Linked DNA regions of Homo sapiens. The protein of the gene in region 1 interacts with the protein of each later gene in a pairwise test. Each region holds a gene or a part of one and is shown in the gene's direction. Other genes may lie near its edges. The genes, in order: GARS1, KLF6 and IARS1.

The links.
Region 2: the proteins of GARS1 (region 1) and KLF6 interact in binary tests that used the Homo sapiens proteins (3 or more experiments, as listed by UniProt).
Region 3: the proteins of GARS1 (region 1) and IARS1 interact in a two-hybrid assay, tested with the Homo sapiens proteins (one study listed by BioGRID).

The regions. Positions count from the first base shown.
Region 1 is NC_000007.14:30,611,478-30,619,331, forward strand, and holds part of GARS1 (glycine--tRNA ligase isoform 1 precursor), read left to right. Parts: intron 1-618; coding exon 619-768; intron 769-4,418; coding exon 4,419-4,581; intron 4,582-5,636; coding exon 5,637-5,801; intron 5,802-7,854. UniProt on the Homo sapiens protein: Catalyzes the ATP-dependent ligation of glycine to the 3'-end of its cognate tRNA, via the formation of an aminoacyl-adenylate intermediate (Gly-AMP).
Region 2 is NC_000010.11:3,781,648-3,789,731, reverse strand, and holds the start of KLF6 (Krueppel-like factor 6), read left to right. Parts: upstream 1-4,522; 5' UTR 4,523-4,717; coding exon 4,718-4,819; intron 4,820-7,517; coding exon 7,518-8,084.
Region 3 is NC_000009.12:92,290,086-92,298,302, reverse strand, and holds the start of IARS1 (isoleucine--tRNA ligase, cytoplasmic), read left to right. Parts: upstream 1-4,605; 5' UTR 4,606-4,692; exon of another isoform or gene 4,693-4,862; intron 4,863-5,709; exon of another isoform or gene 5,710-5,845; intron 5,846-7,380; exon of another isoform or gene 7,381-7,467; intron 7,468-8,217. Other genes in the region: NOL8 (nucleolar protein 8), read left to right, coding at 1-46, 417-467. UniProt on the Homo sapiens protein: Catalyzes the specific attachment of an amino acid to its cognate tRNA in a 2 step reaction: the amino acid (AA) is first activated by ATP to form AA-AMP and then transferred to the acceptor end of the tRNA.

The DNA.
Region 1 (7,854 bases):
TGGTGTTTTTTGTTTGTTTGTTTTGAGATGGAGTTTCGCTCTTGTTGCCCAGGCTGGAGTGCAATGGCGTGATCTCGGCTCACTGCAACCTCTGCCTCCCAGGTTCAAGCGATTCTCTTGCCTCAGCCTCCTGAGTAGCTGGGATTACAGGCATGTGCCACCACGCCTGGCTAATTTTGTGTTTTTAGTAGAGACAGGGTTTCTCCATGTTGGTCAGGCTGATCTCGAACTCCCAACCTCAGGTGATCCGCCCACTTCAGCCTCCCAAAGTGCTGGGATTACAGGTGTGAGCGACTGCGCGCGGCCTGAGGTGGTGTTTTTAAATTTATTTTTATTTCTGCTTTTTGAGAAGTGGGGTTTTGACTCACTGGTGTAATTAAATGAAATGGCATTGCCAAAGTAGTACTGCCACACTAATTACTTAATACATTTTCTAATACGTGCTATGAAAATGTTTGCTACCGAGGAAAATATTTCTAAAACTTCATTTTAGGGCCTGTTCAACTTTGTTGTGAAAATGGTATATTTAGGACTTTTAGGATTTGTATCTAGAATTTCAGGATTGTTGGAAAACATAATTTCTTTCTTTGTAACAGACTGACTTACTTAAATTTATAGGTACTTGAGACCAGAAACTGCACAGGGGATTTTCTTGAATTTCAAACGACTTTTGGAGTTCAACCAAGGAAAGTTGCCTTTTGCTGCTGCCCAGATTGGAAATTCTTTTAGAAATGAGATCTCCCCTCGATCTGGACTGATCAGAGTCAGGTACTGCTCAGGTTACTCTTACAAATTAGTGAATGACCTTGGCATTGCATTGAAAATGAAAGCTTGCTGTTTTGAAGCAATTCTGCTTCATAATCCTGATTATGAATTTATTTTTGTTTTCTCCAAAAATCATGTTTTACATTTGGAATCTCTAAATGTAATCTCCAGGATGACAGGCAGTTTTGAGTGACAAAAGTGAACTTGAAGGGAAAGGAAGGAGGGTGGAGACTGTCTTAAGAGTCTCACCTGCTCCAAAATTACCTTTTTCCTTGTTCATCGTATATTTTGAGGATGGTAATATCTTGATTGTCTAAACCAAGGCAATACTGGCAATGGTGATGTGTATAAAAGGGTGGGGTCGGGTGGGGGTAGGGTGAAAGTTGTGGCAGGAGGATTGTTCTAGATATCTAGGGCAGACAACATTGCTGAAGTTGGGGTGAGGATGTATCAGTAACCAACTGGAGTTCTGGAAACAACCTCCGTCCAGGTATTTGGGGGGCCTATATGACAGAAAGGCCAGCAAGCAAGCTTACCCTCATCACTCACTTGGCCTCTATTCAAATAGCCTACTTTTGTCTGATCTATCCAGGGATGTGTGGGAAGGCATATTGGGGCTGGTGAGTTCTATATTTCTTTAGAAATTTATTATGACTCAGCTGTTTATGACTTAAGTTTTTTGTGATTTCTATACGTTATTCCTGGTATCATCTCTTAGAGTAATACATTCCATATAAAATACGAGGTGTAGCTAAACATAACTTTCTAAGGCCCCAAAGTGTTTTCCCAGCCCCAGCGCCCACCCATTTCCTGTCTTCTCTTCTTACTCACTGTAATTACAGACTTGGGTCATAACATAGCCCAGTCACTGACTCTGGATCAAAGCATCCACAGCACCTGCCTCATCTTGTTAGTTCCCATGATGCCATCTGGGAGAAGATGCCTATGTTCTGCGCAAACTGTATCTCTAGGCCCTACAGGTTTACGGTTTAGGAAGGAGGGACTTACAGAGGAAAGAATGTGCCCAACTTAGAGAAAGTTGGGGGAATGACCCCTCTGAGCTTTCATGTAAAAAGAGGAGGTCATCAGAAACTTTAGCCAGGTATGATGGCAATGACAAATTTGTCAGATTTGAGTCTTTGTTTTATTTCCCAGTGTCTGAGTGTTTTTGTTTTTTTGTTTTTCACCGTTTCAATATCTAGCAAGTATGCCTTCCCAAACTGAGGAAGCTGCGTAAGGCTGACCTTGTCTGAAGCCAGTGTTACGAAGAGGGTTTACACAGAGTAGCTATGGGAAGATTATTGAGAAGGACTGAGAAGTAAGGCAGTGTCTGGGGCCTGTGCAGTAAAAAAGTGGTGAGTAGGGAAACCAGCTTGGAACTTGGGAGTGATCCCAGGGGTTAACTGGTAGAAAGGCTCTGGGGCTTCTCAACAGTGGATTCTTTGGTCATTTTCACTTCAAAGTGTCATGTCTGAATTCTGGCTAGTTTTGTTATGTCCCTTGCAAGTTCCTGACCAGAAGTCCACTAGTTTTTTCATGAGTCAGCATCCTCCTGGCTTTTGTTCCATGGTAGGACTAGGATTGGTTTATTTAGTGTTCTGATTCTTCTTGATGGCAGAGTTCTCTGGTGATTAATCTTTGCATAGCTGTATTTCCTTTTGTCCTTTTGTTAGTTTAGAGGTATTAGATTGTTCATATGAAGATTTTTCTAAAATTTTATTTTATTTTGATTGACTTATCTGTCTTCCTAGCCTGTGTGTATTTTAGTTCTCTACAGTTTCAGGTACAGTTGCTGAACTGAGATACAGTTACTCAGAATTCTGATGATTCCTGCCTCCTATCTATGAGCTGAGATTATTGATGAGTAAATTTTGTATGATTTGTATGATTTCAAGTCACACAGTGTGGTGCTTTGATATGCTTATACATTGTGAAATGATTACCACAGTCAAGCTAATTAACATAATTATCACCTCACATAGTTACTTTTTTTTTTTTTAGTGGTGAGATCTACTTAACATCTACTCTTTGAGCGGATTTCAGGTATACAGTGAATCATTAACTATAGACACAGTGCTGAGATTTGTGACAGAACAGATGGAAAGACTTTGGCAGCAGCATTTTGGAGATTCTAGGCAGGGCCCGTAATTTATCCTGTCCCACATTGTAGATGTTCAGTTGCTGTCAGCCCAATTATAAGCTATGTGAGGACAAACACCATGTTTGTTTCTCTCACATTTATATGGGCACAGAAGATGTTTCCTAGTTGTTGAAAGACAACTAAAACATAGGTGCAGCAGGACCAAATAAGAGACACTATTAAAAAATAAAATTTAAAAATTAAACCTCTTGGCCGGGCGCAGTGGCTCACGCCTGTAATCCCAGCACTTTGGGAGGCAGAGGCGGGCGGATCATGAGGTTCAGGAGATTGAGGCCATCCTGGCTAACACAGTGAAACCCTGCCTCTACTAAAAATACAAAAAATTAGCCGGGCGTGGTGGCGGGCGCCTGTAGTCCCAGCTACTCGGGAGGCTGAGGCAGGAGAATGGCGTGAACCCGGGAGGCGGAGCTTGCAGTGAGCCGAGATCGCGCCACTGCACTCCAGCCTGGGCGAGCGAGACTCCGTCTCAAAAAAAAAAAAAAAAAAATTAAACCTCTTTTGCAGTGTATTTCATGTATTTTTAGGATCCATTTAAGCAATTTTACATTACTCGTAAAACATCTGAGATAATCATGGAAGCACACCAGAAAATGTGATTTTTCTTGAAAGAAGAGAGATTGATTTTGACTCATAAAATTAACTTGAAACACTTCTCCCGCAAATAGCTACTAAATTGCATTCAGAGAAATCTCTTTGGGAAACCATTACTATGTGCACTTCATCGTTAGGTAATTAGCTTGATGTTAGCTTGTTCAATTCATGCCTTATATCCTTTGCCTTGAATAACACTTTATTTAAGAAGCTCTTGCTCCAAAGAAACCAACTGTATGATGCCATTATCAGTCATTTACTTTTTTGTAGCAGTAAAAAAGAAGAAATCAAACTGCTATGAAAGCTAAAGAACCATTTCATTTCGCTTTTAATTTCCCATTCTTTGAAATGGGATGAAGAAACTTCATTTAGTGTATACTTATAAAGACTTGCTAATGCTTTAAGGAAAACCATTTTATCTGCATGTCACTATTCAATATCTTATTTCTTATTTTTCATGTGATTTTTGCGTATGTTTTCCTAATTTAAAAAACTATATTAATCTGCCTTTAACAAGTTATTTTCAGTTAAAAGTAATAATCTTTTTGGATGTAGCTGGAGGGAAGGAATTAATACTTCAGAGAAGTTAGATCATGTTTATTTTAAATAGTGAGTAATAAAATTTTCATTAATGTGTTTAAAAATAACCTTCACATGTACCCCATAAATTTGTACAAATATAATACATCAAAAAAATAAAAATAACAACTACCCAGACAAATTTAATTCAAAATTTTTTTGGCCATTCCCTTAGGAAACCAACTTTCTGTTTAGTGAAAAAGACCACTATAGTATGGAGCCTTTATCACTAGAATGCAGTTGAAAATAGAGGCCTTGTTTTTTGTTTGTTTGTTTTTTGTAGTTAAATATGCAGGTTTATCGCTTACGTTTTTGCTTTCAGAGAATTCACAATGGCAGAAATTGAGCACTTTGTAGATCCCAGTGAGAAAGACCACCCCAAGTTCCAGAATGTGGCAGACCTTCACCTTTATTTGTATTCAGCAAAAGCCCAGGTCAGCGGACAGTCCGCTCGGAAAATGCGCCTGGGAGATGCTGTTGAACAGGTAGGATTCTGGAGGTAACTTAACTTAGATTGTGCCTGTTCAGGGTTTGCAGCAATTAGCAAATTCTATGTGTTCTGGGTGACAAGATATTTTATTTTGGCAGTCATTTGCTTTTTTACAGTACTTGGTTTTGTACAGAATTTGTTATACAGTATTATTATAGTAAGAGAAAAATCACCTGAACATCTCAATTTGTGGGCCTTGGGGCTAGCATGAAAAAAAATGTTTAGCAGAGCACTTGGAAAATAGATCTTGGTTTGCATTGTGCCTCACCAATCTGACTCAACAGTATGTACTACTTTGGGGGAGACAGCATTGGACCCACAGAAAGCAAGCCATCTGGGTTTCAGACTCTTCTGTATTACCCATAGCAGTGGAATAAGGCCTTGCATATAAGCACTTTGTAAATATTTGCCTGGAGAAGTGAGTGCGTGAAAACTTGCCAACAGTAGCTGCTGTCCACTAGTGGAATGAGTTGCCTCAGGGAGCAGTGAGCTTCCTGGCCCTGAAAATACTCCTGGCAAGGTTGGACGATAGCTTGTCAGCCACTTTGCAGAGAAGACCTCTGCAGTGTATGGAGATGGGGCTAGATGTTTTCTAAGGTCCTTGCAAACACTAAAATGATTACGTGTACTCTACGGGGTTCACAAATTTCAGTGGGTAAGGATACATTAAAATCCCCTCAACGTGTCATTACTTTGGTTAATTCAGAGGGGAATGTCTTTGCCATTCTTTAGTGTCAATTATGAATATTGTTTTTAGTACTGTAGATTTAGAGGTATGAGGTACTGGGCTGAATTTTTGCTGACCCAGTAAGTATGTTGGACAGATTTTGAATAACTCCATTATCATCATCTTGACATTAACCCATTAAAAAATAACCAAGATCTCATTCTGAGTATTTGAAATTGTTTTGAAAGCAAGATAAAATAGTTTGTGTTGGGTGTCAAATATTTTTCAGTAGAGTGAGTCAATGGAAACCGATATCTTGGCTTTGAAGAGTATTAATGTGTGTTTTCTTTTCTTCCTCCATGCTTGCTTATTGGTTGGTTTAGGGTGTGATTAATAACACAGTATTAGGCTATTTCATTGGCCGCATCTACCTCTACCTCACGAAGGTTGGAATATCTCCAGATAAACTCCGCTTCCGGCAGCACATGGAGAATGAGATGGCCCATTATGCCTGTGACTGTTGGGATGCAGAATCCAAAACATCCTACGTAAGTGGAGTGCTGTTTACCATGTGATTTTCACATTGTTAACTTAGAAGCACAGGTACCAAATGAATTTTTGTGCACTTTATGTCACAGAGGAACAAAGGGAAAAGAAAAGAGATCTTTTCCTGAGCAAAACAGAAAAAGCAGTTGCCTCCTGCCTTTTTATAAGTGTCCTAAGGAGCTCGTTGTAGTCTTAGATAGCTGAGAGACAGAGTTAGTGTATGATGGGACAGTGCGGATGTGTACACTGCTGTACAGTGTATTGGCAGCATTACTGGCAATATCCTGGAGTGGATCTAAGACACATTGGCCTCTCCTTCCTGGCAAGAGTCCCAGCAAACATTGGAAATGGTGGAGAGGTTGAATAAAGAAAGTCATAGTGCTCTTAGCTCAATGAGCTATGTAGTAGCTTTGGGGAATATACTAGTTGATTCTGATCTCTGGCTTAAGAACTACCTTCCTCAAATGTTATGTATTTAACTCAAAATTCACAGACGATCTCCAGGTACCCTCCTGCCCCTGTGCCCTGTCACCCCTCCAGCCTCCACCACCAAACATGAACATCAGTATTGAAGCGGAGGGACGAAAGGCATTTGCATATAGGAGATGCTGTCTATATTGGTGGCAGGAGGAAATGTGGCATCTAAAACAAGGCTGAGAGTCTTTTGGCATTTCTCTTATTGGGTGTTAGAGAGGCTTCCTCGCCTACATAGAAAGAGACTTTAGTCCAGGGGTCACTGGTTCCAGTATACCCTTGGTTCAGTTTTTACTTTTCAGAATGGCTTTCTTTTTATGGATTTTTAAAAATTAAAAATCAAAATTAGTCATATTTTAAAAAGTAATGACTACTTTTTTTAAAACAAAAAGGAAAAAATAATTCTGAAGACTATTATGTAGAAAATTAAACTTCCAGTTATATGCCTCTCCCCAGGTGTTTTATGTCTCTTCTCTGTATTGAGCAAACATTTTCTATAAAGGACCAGATGGTAAATATTTTTAGCTTTATGAGTCTCTGTCACATAACTTTGTTGTTTTTTACAGCTTGTAAAAAACAGCTTTTAAAAAATGTCCAAACTGGCTGGGTGTGGTGGCTCATGCTTGTAATCCTAGCACTTTGGGAGGCCGAGGTGGGAAGATTGCTTGAGCTCAGAAATTTGAGACCAGCCTGGGCAACATAGCAAGACCCTGTCTCTACAAAAAATACAAAAATTAGCCAGGTGTGATAGCACGCCCCTGTAGTTTCAGCTACTTGGGAGGCTGAGGTGGGAAGATCACATGAGCCCGGGAGGTTGAGGCTGTAGTGAGCCATGATTGCACCACTGAACTCAAGCCTGGGTGACAGAGTGAGGCCCTGTCTCAAACAAACAGACGAAAAAAGATCATGCTTAGCTCCATGGTCTTGGGTATGTCTGCCTTCTCTAGATGATTTTTCTACGTGTTCTAACACATGCATGCATAAATGCATAATAATATGCATATGTTTATAAATGGCTATTAATGATGTTGTTTTTAATATATTCTTTTTCCCTTGTGGAATTAGAAAGAATTACTGTAATCTGTTAGGATTTTCTTAGCAAGCTTGCTTGACATATGTCAAAATGATAATAGTAATTATTTTTAGGATTATGGGTGATCATTAATTTCTTTACACTTTTTAGATTTTCTGGGACTTCTTTTTATTTTCAGATCAAACCAATAAAATGTTTTTCCTTTTGTATGAGAAAAGATTATTACTTTTCTTTTTGTTTCATACCCAGCTCCTTCTCTTAGTTTGCTCTGATTCTGATTTCAGATTAAACCAGATGTTGTTCTTGCTGTCTCAGTTAAGTAATTTGCTTAAGTCTCACAGCCAGTGAGTGGTGAGGCTGGGATATAAACCTGGCTGTCTGACACCAGACTCATGCTCTTAACAGTTATGCTGTACTGCTTTATAAACCCCACTGGATGCCTGCTCGTCCTTATCTAAGTGCCATTGTGAGGGTTAGGGATCAGAAAATGGAAAGTCACTGGAAAACAGGGCTAAATGAAACAAGAAGCTCCAGAGTCCCAGAGGCTC
Region 2 (8,084 bases), on another chromosome or scaffold:
CAAGATTTAATGAAATACAATAAACCACAGATACAAGACCTCAGTAAACCACACAGGGATAGGTTTAGTACCTTTTTGAAAATTTTTTTTTAAAAGTGTATAAGAATGATGGTATTTCTGAGCTCTATATTCTGTTATATTGATTTAACTGTATCAAAGCCAATGTCACACAATCACGTTCAATTTTGCTTTAAGTCTTGAAACACATAATATAAAACTTTCAACCTTCAGGACTGGTTTAGGTATAGCTCTCTTCAGCATTTCCTATACATTTTTAAATCAGCAGGACAACTTCAACAAAAAAGCCTGCTGAGATTTTGATGGGAAGTGTGTGGAATGCACAGACCACCTTGTAAAGAATGGGTATCTTAACCACACACGTGGTATAGCTTGTACCTGTGGATATTTCACAGGGAGCTCCTTCTGGAGGCCCTATTGTGAACTGAGCTTTACAGCTGTCCCATTTTACAATTATATTTTAAAAGAGGGCTACTAAAACAAAGGTCTTAGATAGACAGAAGTTCTCCCCGACCAATGCCCCAGAGGTATCCTGTCATTGTACTTATTACCTTGCCTATGTTGACAGTAAAATTCAACATCTTTTGAAAACTATCAATAGGGCATTTTCCTTCATTATTCTAAGCAAAAATGGTTAAAAAGTGAATCTACTACACCTTACATGTTATGTAAAAACGCTAGGGAGAGAAAAGGCAACTCACTATTTAGATAGAACTATCTGCAAATGAGATAATTGAGAAATGAACATCACAGGGCCAGGCGCAGTGGCTCATGCCTGTAATCAAGCAATTTGAGAGGCAGAGGCAGCCGATCACTTGAGGTCAGGAGTTCAAGAACAGCATGGCCAACATGGTAAAACCCCATCTCCACTAAAAACACAAAAATTAGCCAGGCGTGGTGGTGCATTCCTGGAATCCCAGCTACTTGGGAGGCTGAGGAAGGAGAATTGCTTGAACCCAGGAGGCAGACGTTGCAGTGAGCCAAGATTGTGCCACTACACTCTAGCCTGGGCAACAGAGGGAGACTCCATCTCAAAAAAAAAGGAACATTTTACACTTACATAGGCTCTATCATGTAAATATTCAGAAGTACTTTCTTAACAATTATATTTTGCACACCCAAAATAAACAGATGAAATAAAAGGGTAGTTTGCTCCAAAACAGGCAATATATTGGTACAGACACCAAAACCAAAACAAAACAGAACAACAAAATTGGCTTCTTGCCCCAAAATTGGAGCATTCTCTGTCAATATAATTAGGGGGCATTATTGGAATTATCCTCAGAACAGATTTGTAAGACTTCCCCCAAGAGCCCGTCTTGAATGATCTAGAACAGGAAGATCAAATGTACTCAATACCAACATGTTATCCCATTAATCTTTAAATTAAATTTAAAATTAGGTTTCAAATGTATACTTTTATTTTTGAGAGGCAACAAAGAGAGCTTCCTGGTATGAAATAAATGAGCACAGCCTGGAGGTCTAAGAGGAGAAGAAAAACAGTGGAGGAGGGCATGGAGGCCTAAGTGGGGACTGAGGAAGTAACAGCGGGGTGCCAGGGGGGTGAAGTGGCCCCCAGGAACGTCGAAAGGAGCCTACGACTGTCACCCAGAAGGGATCTTGACCTTTTGAAGATAGTGGCAGAGACAGGAGTGGCTCAAGGTGAGCAGAGAACAAGGGTCACGTCCAACAAATGGAGCTGATTATTTTCTCTCCAAGACTGCGAGAGTGAAAACAGAGCAGGGCTCTTCAGCGACCGGCAGGAGAAGGAAGCACCTGTGGGATTATTGGACAAGTCGAGGTCCAACTCTTGTCTCTGATTTGCTTTGTGGCCTGCAAAGTTGACTTCATTTTTCTGTCTGCATTCACTCATATGTTAAAAGAAGGGTGGGGGATTATAAAATAATTACCAAGAGCAAACTTACAAATGGCTAAATGGTGAATAAGTGAACACTGCCTTCAATTTATTGAATCACTACTATTTGCTACCAAGCAGGAATTTTAATCCATTAACTCTTCTGATTATACTAAACTCATTCTAATAGTCATTTTAATCTCCTATTTAAATAACGTGACCAGGGCCATGCGCACAGCATGGACAACTAAAGTGTAAAATCCATCATCTTTTTATATCCTGCCATACTTCCCCCTTCTGAATTAATCTGGCCCTCTACGATTCTTTGTTGCTCTTCTTAAAAAAATCAGGCGCAACTATTAGTGTTCAGATGCGATGCATATTCTTTGTCACATCAAAGAAAATGATATTTTTTCACCAACTGGTTACATGCTTACTCGTAATAAGGACTTTTGTTTTCAAACATCTACATACTCCTGGCAGCCCACCTCTCCCACACCGTAATAGGGATTTGTGCCTGTTTTGTAAATTTCTGTGTACCAATACCTGGCCATTCATAGGGTGTGAGTAATGTGTGTTCAATGGTCAATGAGCGCAGCAGGATGCCATAGGATCTATTCTATTTGAAATTTAGTGTTCATATGTACCCTGTTTTCAAATCTTTTTTTTTTCTGAAAATGACAATGGCCATTGTACTGTATCTGCATTATGACTAATCAGGTTCCCTCTTGTAAAAATAAACTATATAATCTTCATAGTGCCGGGCAAAGCATGTTAAGAGACAAGGATGAATTTAAGTTCTATAGGAATGTGGATTTATTAAAAAACATTAAGACAATAATTAATTGTCCCAAAGATAAAATGGGACACCCTCACCAGGACGCCCACACGCCTTGCAAAGACAGCCGTCCTGTCCTCCCTGGCCCAGACAGAGCCTTCCCCCTTCATCTCGGGCTCCCCCTGATCCAGCGTGCCTGGCCCTCAGCGGGGGACTTGCTCCACACTCCTGCTTACTTAGGAACTAGCGGGGCCAAGGTCACAAGCGCTAATTACTGAGAGAACCCTGCCCCCAACACAACGGCTGCCCAGATGCTCTCGGCTGCCAGTCACTGGGCCCCGGTCAATGGGCGCTTGGGCAAATCTGTGGATGGTTCAAAACAAAGCCATTTGCATTCCTGGAAACAGAGTTAAGGTGCAGGTCCCCAAGAAGGGCTGGTCCTGGCTCTCAGTTGCTGGGGTAAATGTGATGAACACGAGCCAAGAACACTGTCAATTCACTCTGCATAACCTTCACCGCCCACATACCGCAGGTACAAGACAAACCTCCTTTCTCCACTCCAGACTCACTAAGGTCCCCACCTAGTCTTACAGCCACATGCTTCTGCCGGACCCTCTAAAACTTAACATACAAAACCCTCTAATTTTTTTTTACATAGTCCATTCTTTCAAAATGTTTAATGTTCATTAAACTATTTTGAAACAAAAACTATAATACAGTTACAATTCAGTTTTCCATTTTGGATTTTAAAATGCTCTGGTTCGAGTCTCGACATTTTTCTTAAAAATGAACATTACGGTATATTTTAGGAGATAATTTATATGGAAAAAAACACACACACTAAATGTCGGCTTGCACCTAAATTGTTTACACGTTCATGGGAAAACCTAGCTGTTAACCTTGGTGAGGGCTAAGATCGCCCTCTACAAGATAAACACGTTTCTCCCAATTCCAAGGGGAGCCTGCGTGCTCCCCTCCCCCACTCTGGTGGCCCGGAGGACAGAGGGGACCCTAGGACTGGAGGGGGACGGAGACGGGCTCAGGGATGGAGGGGGACAGAGAGGGACCCGGAGGTGGAGGAGGACAGAGAGGGGTACCCCAAGGTTAGAGAACAGAGGATGACTAGGGGGATGTAGGGAAACAGAGCGGCGCAGAAGAGGACAGTTGGGGACGGGGCGGCCCCGGGCATAGAAGGGGACAGTTGGCGACCGGGAAGCCCCCGGCGTAGAAGGGGACAGTTGGGGACGGGGCGGCCTCGGGCATAGAAGGGGACGGGGGGGAACCGGGCGGCCCCGGGACCGGACGGCCGCCCGCAGGGTGAGCTGCCGGAACCGGGGCTCGCGCGGCGACAGGGCCCGGCTTGGTGACCGGGACGGGCGTGGGGTGGCGGGACCGGGCAGCGGGGAAGAGAGACCGGGACTGGGGACAGGCGACGCGGCCCGCCCCGGCTCTCCCAGCCCCGGCTCCCTTAGCTCCGGCCGCGGGCGCAGTGCAGGGCTCGGCCGCGCACCTCACAGCGCGGACTCCTCCGGCGCGCGGCCGCCCGCGCCTTATATACCCTGCTAAAAATAGCCTGCGAGGCCACTTTCCAATCAGAACGAGCAGAGTTCGAATTGAGCCAATGGTGCGGGCCGTGATGGAGAGTCTCGGTCACGCCAGGCGGGGCCGCTGTGTGTCGCCGCCTGCGATTGGCCGGAGCTGACATCATCGGCGCGCAGCCCCCGGGCCGGGAGCCACGGGATTGGGCCGCGCACGGGGCGGGCGCGGGGCGAGTCACGTGGGGGGAGGGGGAGTGGGGGGAGCCAGGCGGGGGCGGAGGGGGAGGCTGGCAGCGGAGCTTTGAATAGGGAAGTTTTGCAGGGGTTACGTTTGCAGTCAGTCCGGTGTTTGCAAATATTGTGTGGGCTCCGCGCGCTGCGGGCTGCGGGAGGGTCCGGCCGGGCGTCTCTGCGAGCCTGGAGTTTGCATGAAACTTTCACCTGCGCTCCGGGGAGACTTTCGGCTCCGGCTCCCACCGCGCGCCTCGCCGCCCTCGCGACCGCGGGCTCCGTCCAACCCGGCCCGACATGGACGTGCTCCCCATGTGCAGCATCTTCCAGGAGCTCCAGATCGTGCACGAGACCGGCTACTTCTCGGCGCTGCCGTCTCTGGAGGAGTACTGGCAACAGGTAAACGCAGCCGGCCGCGGTTCCCTGCGGGCGCCGGGGCGCGGGCCGGGTCGGCTGTTTGGGGTTCAGACCCGGTGCTCTCTGCGGTCCGCTGGGCCTGGGCCCCGCGCTGTCACCGGGGGAGCGGGCGCAGCGCCCCCGCCGATCGATCCTCCAGGCTGCGATCAGCGTCCGCCCAGGGAAGCCCCAACTCCCGGCACAGCCCGGCCGAGCCCCTGGCACGAGTTCGGAGCCTGTCCCCGCTCCAGACGCCACAGCTGGAGCTTGTCATGGGGACCAACTTGCTCTGCCTGCCAAGGTGTTTTTTTTTTGTTTGTTTGTTTTTTGTTGTTTTTTTTTAACGGATTTTGTTTTTGTTTTGTTTCTTGGTGCTTGTACTTAACAGTTTTTTAAAAAAATCACATTTTGCCCCCAGAACGTAGACCAGCTCTCTTTTATTTTTGTCTTTTTTAAACTGTAGACCATTTCCAATGTGTTTTCTGCTCTTTGGAATGCCTAACATTTCCCCTAGATCTGCCTTATTTGTCTTCCCTGCTTCTCTTGTTGACCAAGAAAAATAAAAATAAAACTGTGTACACCCCAGTGACTTGTCAGTCTTGTGACAATGAGCCCGTCCAAACTGCTTCAAGTCTTAGTTTGGAAAGAAGGACCTCGGTTTCCGACATTGTCGTAGAACTGGAATTTGGGGGCATTGGAAATTTAAGAAACTTACCAGGTCCCCGTGCTTATAGGTAGCATCGCCCGAGGGGAGAGAGACTGACACTCCTCCCATTGTCTCTCCAGCGATCGCAGGAGGGTTTACTGTTGTCTCCCTGCCCTGCTGTGCTGTTTGTTTTTCGTCACAAAGTGAATTGCCAGATCAAATAGAGGCTGTGGGTTTCCAAGCCTCGAAAGCTTTAAGGAAGATGAAATGCAGGGTGTTGCAACCTTCACACGCCTGCTTAATTGTTCACAGTCCTCTCCTGCCTTTTCCCCCTCCCCCTCCTGTTTTTTTCCTCCTCAAAGAAGCTGCTCCCTAGGACGTGATTGAAATTGATCTAAGTAGTTTCCTTCGGGCGTTTGGGATTTGGGCAAACGGCCAGACCTGGCTCTTGGTCGCCTTTGGAGGCTTTTAAACTCTCCGAGAGCTTCGTTCAGGTCCCGGGTGCTCATCAGCGTAATGGAGATTTTAAATTGGCCGGATTATTAAAGTTTAACAAGATCTCCATAAATGTGCTTTTCTTTTTTCTTTGTTAAATCAATAAAATACATCGCTGCTGCCTCTCTTCAGAACGCTGTAGTGTGCATTGTAACTCAGACGCCTGGTTTCGGGGGAAAGGGGAAAGCATGATTCTCCCGTGTGCTTGCTCCCACCGGCTGTGTGCGAGCCTGGGGAGGGGGAGGGATTGCCTGTGGCAGGAGAGAGGCACACTGCTAAGTCAGCCTGAGCCCCTGGGGTAGGCTGCGCTCAGGAAGGTCCCTGCCCGGAAAAATGACGTGCTCACCAGAGCCGTTTGGTGTAGAAACTGAAATCTGTAGAATTGCCAGTAGTATAGACAACCTTATATGGACATGCAGGCAGCTGATCCTCGTGAAAATCAGGGCAGACATAATTTAATCCTAAAATGTTTCCTACCATTTTTCTTTTCCAGTGGCTAGAAAGTTTGAAATGGTGGGGAGAGGGGATGCTGATCTCGGCAGTTGTAGCTTCTTGAAAGGTTGGTTGCGGGGCTGGGGAAGGGGTACTGTCCATGCCACACTGCATGTCCATTTGAGCTGGGTCCTTATTTGGCTGCTGATGAGAATTTCAAAAGGAAGTCTCCTTTGGCATTGCGTGAAAGAAATCAGAGTGATGACTCATGCAGTTGTACTCTTGGCCAGTAGATAAAGTTCTTGTTCATTGTGGGACTCCCAGCAGGGCCGTGGAGTAATTTCCCCTTGCACCCTTCACAATAGCAGATGGCCATGCTGGAATTATTTCTGCACTCCTGTTGTTGAAGTTCCTTGTTTTTCTCTGACCACTGTAGAAGTAATTAAAGTTCTGTGTCATGCAAGGGCCTGCACTTGGGAACGGCATTCTGTGAAAACATAGGCGGTCTGGGCTACACAGGAAATGGGTGGTTTTTCTGCAGCTCCATTCGATGCCCCTGAATACAGACAGCTGCTGTCTCCTCTCCCCCGAGTGTGGCCCTGTGTTGTCAGCCGTGTCCCCAAGGGGGTCCCTCAGAACACGCTGTGTGCCGTGCAGTCTTTCTGTCCTGTGTGGGTATCTGTGGAGTGTGAAGGGTGGATGGCTGGGGCTTTCCTTAAAACACATGGTTCTTGACAATGTCAGATAATCTGGTTGAACCTGTTGGGGAGGAGTATGTGTATGGGGCCGGTTCTCTTCCTCTGGTTTCATGAGAAACATCAACACTGGTAACTACAACAAAAAAACCGGCTTAGTGATCATCACTCATTGTGGCCCTTGGCCCAACATTGGGAAAGCCAGGAGAGGTTTCACCCTCCGACTTTTCCTCTGAATTCTTACCATTCTAGAAACAGATTTCCTCTAACTTCCGTAAGGACACGGATGCTTAATTACAAAAGGTTTTGCCCCTGTAGTGACCGGGCAGCAATGTTATCTGTCCTTCATTCTTGCATGTTTTTGGAAATTGCTTTTGCTTTTACTTTTGGTCGTCATGGCAATCACGTGCCTTCTCTGGTTCATTTTGCACAGACCTGCCTAGAGCTGGAACGTTACCTCCAGAGCGAGCCCTGCTATGTTTCAGCCTCAGAAATCAAATTTGACAGCCAGGAAGATCTGTGGACCAAAATCATTCTGGCTCGGGAGAAAAAGGAGGAATCCGAACTGAAGATATCTTCCAGTCCTCCAGAGGACACTCTCATCAGCCCGAGCTTTTGTTACAACTTAGAGACCAACAGCCTGAACTCAGATGTCAGCAGCGAATCCTCTGACAGCTCCGAGGAACTTTCTCCCACGGCCAAGTTTACCTCCGACCCCATTGGCGAAGTTTTGGTCAGCTCGGGAAAATTGAGCTCCTCTGTCACCTCCACGCCTCCATCTTCTCCGGAACTGAGCAGGGAACCTTCTCAACTGTGGGGTTGCGTGCCCGGGGAGCTGCCCTCGCCAGGGAAGGTGCGCAGCGGGACTTCGGGGAAGCCAGGTGACAAGGGAAATGGCGATGCCTCCCCCGACGGCAGGAGGAGGGTGCACCGGTGCCACTTTAACGGCTGCAGGAAAGTTTACACCAAAAGCTCCCACTTGAAAGCACACCAGCGGACG
Region 3 (8,217 bases), on another chromosome or scaffold:
TATGAGCAGGAACTCTTGGGAGGCCAGAACAACCAACCTGCGTATGGTGAGTAATTGTTTCTCCATATTATTTCCTAAAATAGACATGTTACCTATCTAGAATTACAGTCCTGGAAGGGAACTCATGAATGGTATAGGTGAGGAGACTGCAGACTGGCTCAATTGAGTGACTGGTCTCAGAATCCAGCCAAGCCTATTAAGTAACACGAAAGCATCAGATTTTTAAAGACTGAATTATAGTTCCCATTATAAACAGTTAATGCCAAAAATGCCAATATCCCCTCTTCATTTCAAAAGAGCACTTTCAAAATAGGTTTCCACAGCCCTGACAGTGAGAATAACCTGTTTTACTTCTATCTACTGAACATCTTAAAAACAATTTGTTTATTGCTAACCAAGTCTTTTTTTTTTCCTAGGATTGTCGAAAGAAACATAAAGACGCAAAAAGGAAAATGAAACCAAAATAATAAATGTCAGCTGGTTTTGATACTGAATGTGAACAAGGCTCACCTAAGGAAACTGACCCAGAAAACAGTTTTAGCTGACAAAGAAGAAATTTCAGAGTGAAGGAATTTTAAAAATCTGGCTGACGGAATATCATTCTGGTTGCCATCTTTTTCTGTGGAACTCCTCTGCATTTCTTCCTAAGTAATTACTTCAAAAATTAAATTCAACTTCTTATAAAGGAAGAACAAGATAGTCCTTGAAAATACTTTTTGTATATAATCTCTTTGCCCTCTATCCTGAGTAACTAATGGACATCTTCTCATGCAAGGTTTATATGAAGCCTTTTTAAATAAATGAGTCAAAGCACTTGTATTTTCCAGCCTAGGCTTTGTGTGAATTATAGGCTATTTGAAATTTTATTTCTGATTATGTCAAATACACCTTCCATTTTGTCATTTTTGTTTAAACTGATAAATTACAAGTCAACATTGAGTTTTATACTTGTGTTTTGGTGAATGGTTAACTGAAATATAGGACATTTCAGACCAACATCATATAAGAGTTCTGTGAGGACCAGGAGAGGAAGCCAAATACAGTTATCTTGTCATTGCCTCTAGGAATTAAGGAACAACATCTAGATGTACACCAATCCCAAAATTCTAGTTAGACTAAAAGCTTATGAAAAATACCAAGTGCCTGAAAGATAGGTAGTCACAATTAGGAGTCAGGACCCTGAGCCCAAATAGGGAAACAGATTTAACATTACATTAAATAAACCAACCTGCCTAGATTTCAAGACATACGTCTCCTATCAAAATGGGCTCTGTATGAAATAGTATTACATAGGCCGGGCGTGATGGCGCACACCTGTAATCTCAGTACTTTGGGAGGCCAAGGCGGGCGGATCATGAGGAGGTCAGGATTTCAAGACCAGCCTGGCCAACATGGTGAAACCCCATCTCTACTAAAAATGCAAAAATTAGCTGGGTGTGGTGGCTCACACCTGTAATCCCAGCTGCTAGGGAGGCTGATACAGGAGAATCACTTGAACCCAGGAGGCAGAGGTTGCAGTGCTGAGATCATGTTGCTGCACTCCAGCCTGGGTAACAGAGTGAGACTCCATCTTAAAAAAAAAAAAAAAAAGAAATAGTATTATATAGTTCCAAGGGACTATCATTAAGCCATGATGTGTGTACCTAAAATTAGTATTTATTGATTTACCTATGCTGAATATAAACTCTTAACTGTTGGGATTTCATCTGGTGTGTTAACCATTATGACCCTAGGGCTTATGCTCTATGTTTTTTTAGTAAGGGTCCAAGGAACTAAATAACTTGAAGAGTAATTCTGGATTCCTAGGTTTCCAAAACTTCAGACTTCAAGGAGAGTGTGGACAACTAAGCAGCAGGATAAATAATTCACACTTTCTACCTTCTCTTGATGTAGATCACATTTGTACCTTATTTTCTATTGCTGCATAGCAAATCATCTCAGTAACAATCATTTATTTTATGCACAAATACTGCAATTTGGTCAACACTCACTAGGGACTGCTGATCTGTGCTGTGTGCTTTCACTGGGGTGGTTCAGCTAGGGCTACGGGATCTGTTTCTAAGATGGCCCACTCAGTGCCTGTTCATGGGCTTCCTTACAGCATAGCAAAAAAGCTCTAGGAGCAAGTGTTCTCAGAGGCAGGAAGCAGATGCTGCCTGTCTCTTAAGGCCTGGCCCAGAAACCGGCTCAGTCACTTCACTGTATTCTACAGGTTTAAACTGACACACAGCCCAACCAGACTGAAAGGGAGGGGACACAGATCCTCACTTCTTAGTGGGAGGAGTGTCAGAATGTGTGGCCGTAATTTAAATCCGGCACATGTTTCACAAGCAGACAAATAAGTAACATCAAGTAGCCTTGCCCACCCCCCAGTTCCTGCTCCCCAGATGAAACCACCTTCAGCAATTTAATTTCTCTAGTATTTACCTCCATGTTTCTACCTAACATGCTTATGCTCTGATTTCTTGGTTTTTCACTTCCAGACACTACATATTCTGAAAAGGTGAAAAAATTATTCACCTCTTCAGTCCAAGTAATATATTTTGACTACAGTTAACTTTTTTGCTGGAATTTTTTCATTTGCTTAACTTTTTCTAGACTTAGTCTTCCCATACCTTCCAACTGTGGGACATGATGAGGTTTCTCTTCAAATAGCCTGATCAATCCTTTATTCTTTAATTCACAGTGCCCCCCTCTTCCCTTTTTCTCCTCTTTCCTTTCTGCCTTTGTTACATGCCTAGACAGGCCACAGTACCAGGCGTTATCAGTACCAGCTCGTATTCCTTATCCGAAGAGAAGACTAGCTCTCTAGCTCATTACAGACAGCCCTTCCCCCTTTCCCCTCTCTCTTACGTGCCCACCTTATCTAAAGAAAGTTAAAATGTTTAGCCAACTGTGGTTATTTTAGATTGTGAGGCCCAACTCCGGCCAATGGAGAAAGGGTACAGGGGCAGGGTTTGTGTCAGGGATAAAGGTTCTCGTGCCCCTTTGTTCTGGTGTGCTCTCATGGTGACTGGCCAAGGAGAAGCACCCCTCTGCGCAGAAGTAAAATTGCTTTGCTGAAAATCCTTTGTTTGAATGTTCAATTTCCTTAGGATTTTGAGCATTATTTCCAACACAACAGTACTATTAATATAAATGTTTCTCAATCAAATTTTTAAATAATTAGACTTGGCCTACCTCACCTTTGTCCAGGAGCCCTCTGTCTGGCTCTATCTGGGCTCTCTGGATAGGTGACAAAAATGAACTGAACAAGGTGGCAACGTGAGGAATGTGAAAACTTCAAACACATTCCAAATACTTTCAGTTAATTAACAAGATTTGCAGCTATTAAATTATGTACGTTATGTGAGTATAGTCAGAACACTGAGTTACCCATGATGGAGGACATGAAACCACTTTAATCCTTCACACAGGGCCAAGACGGTAAGTAAAGTTAAATATATGCTGAACAGACTATCAAAATGTTCCTAAACTTAATAAGAAACTGCATTCTACCTATTCTAGGCCAGATAAATTTTTTATATCCCTCTAACGGATACAATAGGCAGCTACGGAACTACTCCCAATTTGGCAAGATCCAGAATTTCCTTTAGAGGCTCTGGGGCCAAAGCCCGAGGCCTACTGCCCTTTGCAAGGCTCCAGATTTTAACCAGCAGATCAGTAAGGTACCAAGCCGACTCATAGCAATGATAATAAGTATGCAGGCCGGGTGCAGTGGCTCATGCCTGTAATCCCAACAGTTAAGGAGGCTAAGGCAAGCAGATCGCTTGAGCCCACGAGTTTGACAGCAGCCTAGGCAACATAGCAAGACCCCGTTGCTACAGAAAATACAAAAATTAGCCGGGCGTGGTGGCGCTAGCCTGTAGTCCCAGCTACTTGGCCAGGGATGAGGTGCGAGGATCATCTGATCCGGGGAGGTTGAGGCTGCAGTGAGCCATGACCGTGCCACTGCACTCCAGCCTGGGCGACAGAATGAGACCGCTTCTCAAAAAAAGAAAAAAAAATCGTTTGTGCAATGTTTTCATTACCGGAAACATTTTAAGTAAAATACAATAAAACTTTTAAATCTGGTTGTCAGACCCTTCCTTCCCTTTTGTTATTATCGTTTCACGTAGCCATTTATGATAGGAGAAGCGGCTTTGGGGTCGGCGGCTCAGGGCCCAAAAGTATAATTATTAAAGCCACCTCTCCGGAAGTTGCTGTTTGTCGTTATCAATTTAGGTACGAAGTGTCCAGTCAGATAAATACTGACAAAAGCAAACAAGATGAAGAACATGAGCCCCGACCTCGGCGCCCCTTCCCAGTGGGCCGTCACCTACCCGGAGGTGCCCACAACCCGAGTGAGACCTCGGTCTACACTACTGCAACGGATACAAGCAGCACGCACAGCGCCGCCCTCAGCGCTGGTTCGTTTTCCACGTGGAGGCGCAAAACCAGCAAGCACCACTGTCGCACCATCCGAGCCAGTGGGCGCAATCATGTCCGGCGCGACCAATCGGCGCCTGGCTTGTTGGCAGGTGTCAGGCAGCGCGCACTGATTGGCCGGTGCGGAGCCTGTCTCCTTCACTGGATCCCGCATTTTCAGCGCGTTGCATCACCTCCGTGCGCCCGGTTGCAGCGTGGACGCCGGATGAGTTGCTTTTAGGCTTGCTGGCCCGCGGGGCTGTCCAGGCACGCGAGGCCCCTCAGGTACGCCCTCTCTTCCCTGCAGGATCCGGCCCTCAAAGACGAGGGTCACGCACGCGTTACAACCCCGAAACAGTAGCACAAGATTTAATTTTTAAAAGAGCGTGTTTCTTCGGGGCTTGCCGTTCGTTCGTTTCCAGCCTCAGGAATTTATGGTCGCCTTTTTGAATGAGGTAGTGTTTGAAATGAGTAAAATCTTTTTAAAATGATATACATAGTATAAATTGATATAGCTGTGACTTTATGTATAGGCAATACGTATTTTTATATGTCTTAATTTATTACCTTCAATGGCTGCGAGATACTTATTTTATTGATGTACCGTAATTTACTTCAGTCACCATGAATATTTAGATTGTTTTCAGTTATTTGCCTGGAGAAACAATTATTCGGTGAATGTCATTGTATACACATTTTGTACATTTGCATGAGTATACCTGTGGAGTCTATGTTAATAGGATATAACTAAATTGAGGAAACGTTTGAGACGGTCCCACTTTCAGGTTACATTTGACTTAATAGATTATGAAGACCTGAGAATAAAAGGAGAAACAGAAATGGATTTAGAGGAGAATGAAAAGGGGGAACAGAAATAGGCTTATAGGTAGGATCCACATGACTTGATGATTAATTGGTTGTGTGTATCTTCTGAGTAGTGTCAGGGGTGACTCAAAAATGTCATGCCTAAGTAATGGGAAGAATATTGGAACCACTAATACAGTAGTTTAAAAGGGAAGCAATTCTGGAAGGAATTATGAAATTTTAAACAAAACATGGTTTTAGTGTGCGTTTCTAAAATATATTGAGGCAAAATAATATGAAGTAATGTGAATAATATGTAGTTAATATCAGGGAGGGTGGTCTCGAAATTGCTGAACGGGAAGTTGAGGTTAAGGTGACCTGAAGGAGTTGTGGAGCAGCGAAGAGTCAAGGGCCTGGATTATAATAAGAGGGAAGCAAAGGGGATGGCATCCCTCTGCACAACAAGGTTGTTGTGCAAGGTTAACCTGCTCTGTCCCTGCCCTGTGGTTGCTGGATGCTGTTGTGCATGGACAGCTCTCCAGTGGATTCGATGGGCCATAGCAATCCTGTGATTTATGCATGGAGGCTGCTTCTCCTCAGCAGCTGCCATAGCCCGGTCGCTGGTACATGATTCTTCCTGAATAGTCAATGCTGTTATACTGAGTGTTTATGCTTGACGTAATAATGCAGTGATTCTTAATCTTTGGGGAAAGTAGAGACTCCCTAAAAAACACAGTAAAAGCTGAATGAGCTGGCCAGGCATAGTGGCTCATGCCTGTAATCCCAGCCCTTTGGGAGCCCAGGGCAAGAGGATCGCTTTAGCCTAGGAGTTGAAGACCAGCCAGGGCAACATGGCAAAACCCTGTCTCTACAAACCACCCCCTCCCCACCAAAAAAAAAAAAAAAAAAAGCTGAGTGTGGTGGTGCACACCTGTAGTCCTAGCTACTTGGCGGGCTAAACTGGGAGGAACACCTGAACCCAGGGAGGTCAAGGCTGCAGTGAGCCATGATTGTGCCACTGCACTCCAGCCTAGGTGACAGAGTGAGCCACTGTCTCAAAAAAAAAAAAAAAAAAGGAATGATCCTCTTCTCAGAAAGCTTAAATCTTATTTTCTCAAAAATAAAAATTCAGATAGATATTCCTGAATAATTGTTAGAACAGTGCAAGAGTGGTGATGTTCAGACTTTGATGTGAATGCTCATCCCCTAGGGATCTTGTTAAAATGCAGGTTCTGACTCGTAGGTGCGAGGTGAGGCTGGTAAGTCTGCATCTCTAATAAGCTCCCATAGATGTGGGCCATAGTAGGACCAGCCTTGAAGAGATTAGAATGTGTTGGTATCTAAAGGTCTGTTAGTCTTCAGATAACAATCCCATAAGTTTCAGTTGGCCTCTGATAAGGTACACAATGAACCTAAATAAATCAGTAAATGCACAAACACTTATTTTGGTCCTTGAAAGGCTAGAGGTTATAATAAGAGTTGAAGATCTAAAATGCCTTAAACCTTCTGTTTAATACCTTTTAATGGCATACTGTGATCAGAAATAGCTATTTCAGTTAGTTAAACAGCCCAACTGTTCTTGTCCTGTTTTTTCTTAAATTAAACTCAGAGGCACTCACACATCTGAAAAATTAATGAGGGTAAAAGAAAATGAAAGATACTACTTGTCACAGACTTTTTTTTAAATGATAACTTGAATCAATAACTTGATTAGACTATGATGCTTTTGATGCTTTCAAAACTGTTTGAGGTATGTAGGTGTCTTTTCCTGTAGAGTTGATTACCCTGGTCTGTTGTGGTTCTTGAGTACTTAAGATTTTTTATCTTCTCTGTTGTTCCCTTATTAGCAATTTTATCCCCTTCTGATCTGATACTGACTTGGAAAGCTCGTCACCCACCTTGTTAGAATTGTTAAGTAAATATAAATAGACTTTGAGAAGGAAAGGTCTCAAGGGTGGCTCACTAGATACTTAAGTCATAGATTGATCAAGTATCTCTGCATGAGGTTATTAGCAAAACATTTAAAAAGACACTTTAAGACTTCTCTCATTAGGGACTAAACCAGAAAGGTATAGGGCTCATCCTTCATAAAAATCATGAATAAGCAATAAAAAGGGTAAAATGGAAAACTGGAATCTATATTTGAATGTGAGATTCTCATCTTTTTAGCTTTAAGATTTTTTAAGTTTTACCAGTTTTCCTCAAAGAGAAGATGAAGTTACTTCAAGAGAACTGATTTCTGTCATGTGAGTGTAGGTAAGAAAATTCTTAACTACTTTGAGATATTTTTCTTCAGATTATTAATGAGTTTTTTGCACCACTAGATAGAATTTCCAAGATTTTCCTGCTTACTTTTGGAAACATTGTCTCTACCATTACTGAATATTAAATAATAGCCATGTACCCCTCCCTCACACCATATACGAAAATAAAATTATTTGTGGCCTAAATGTAAGCGAAAAATCTATAACCTTGTTTAGGTAATGGTTTATTGATGACACCAAAAGCTCAAGCAGCAAAACCAAAAATTGACAAATTGGGCATCATTAAAATGAAAAATCTTTGTGCTTCAAAAAATGCCATCAAGAAAATAAAAAGACGGCCCACAGAACAGGAGAAATTTTTTATAAATCATATATCTGATAAAGGATTTGTATCCAGGATGTATACATAACCCTTAAAACCCAACCACAAAAAGAGCCCAATTAGAAAATAGGCAAAGGATAAATATCTATCCAACGTGGATACGCAAATGGCCAATAAGCATGTGGAAAGATGCTCAGCATCATTAGTCCTTAGGGAAATGCAAATCAAAACCACAAGATACTACTTAACATCTCCTAGAATGACTGTAATTCAAAGATGGACAATAAGATGTGTTGGGTAAGATCTGAAGAAATTAGAATCCTCATTCACTGCTGAGGGAATGTAAAATAGTACAGTCACTTTGGAAAAATTTTGGCATTTTCTCAAAAAGTTAAATACAGAATTATCATGTGACCCAGA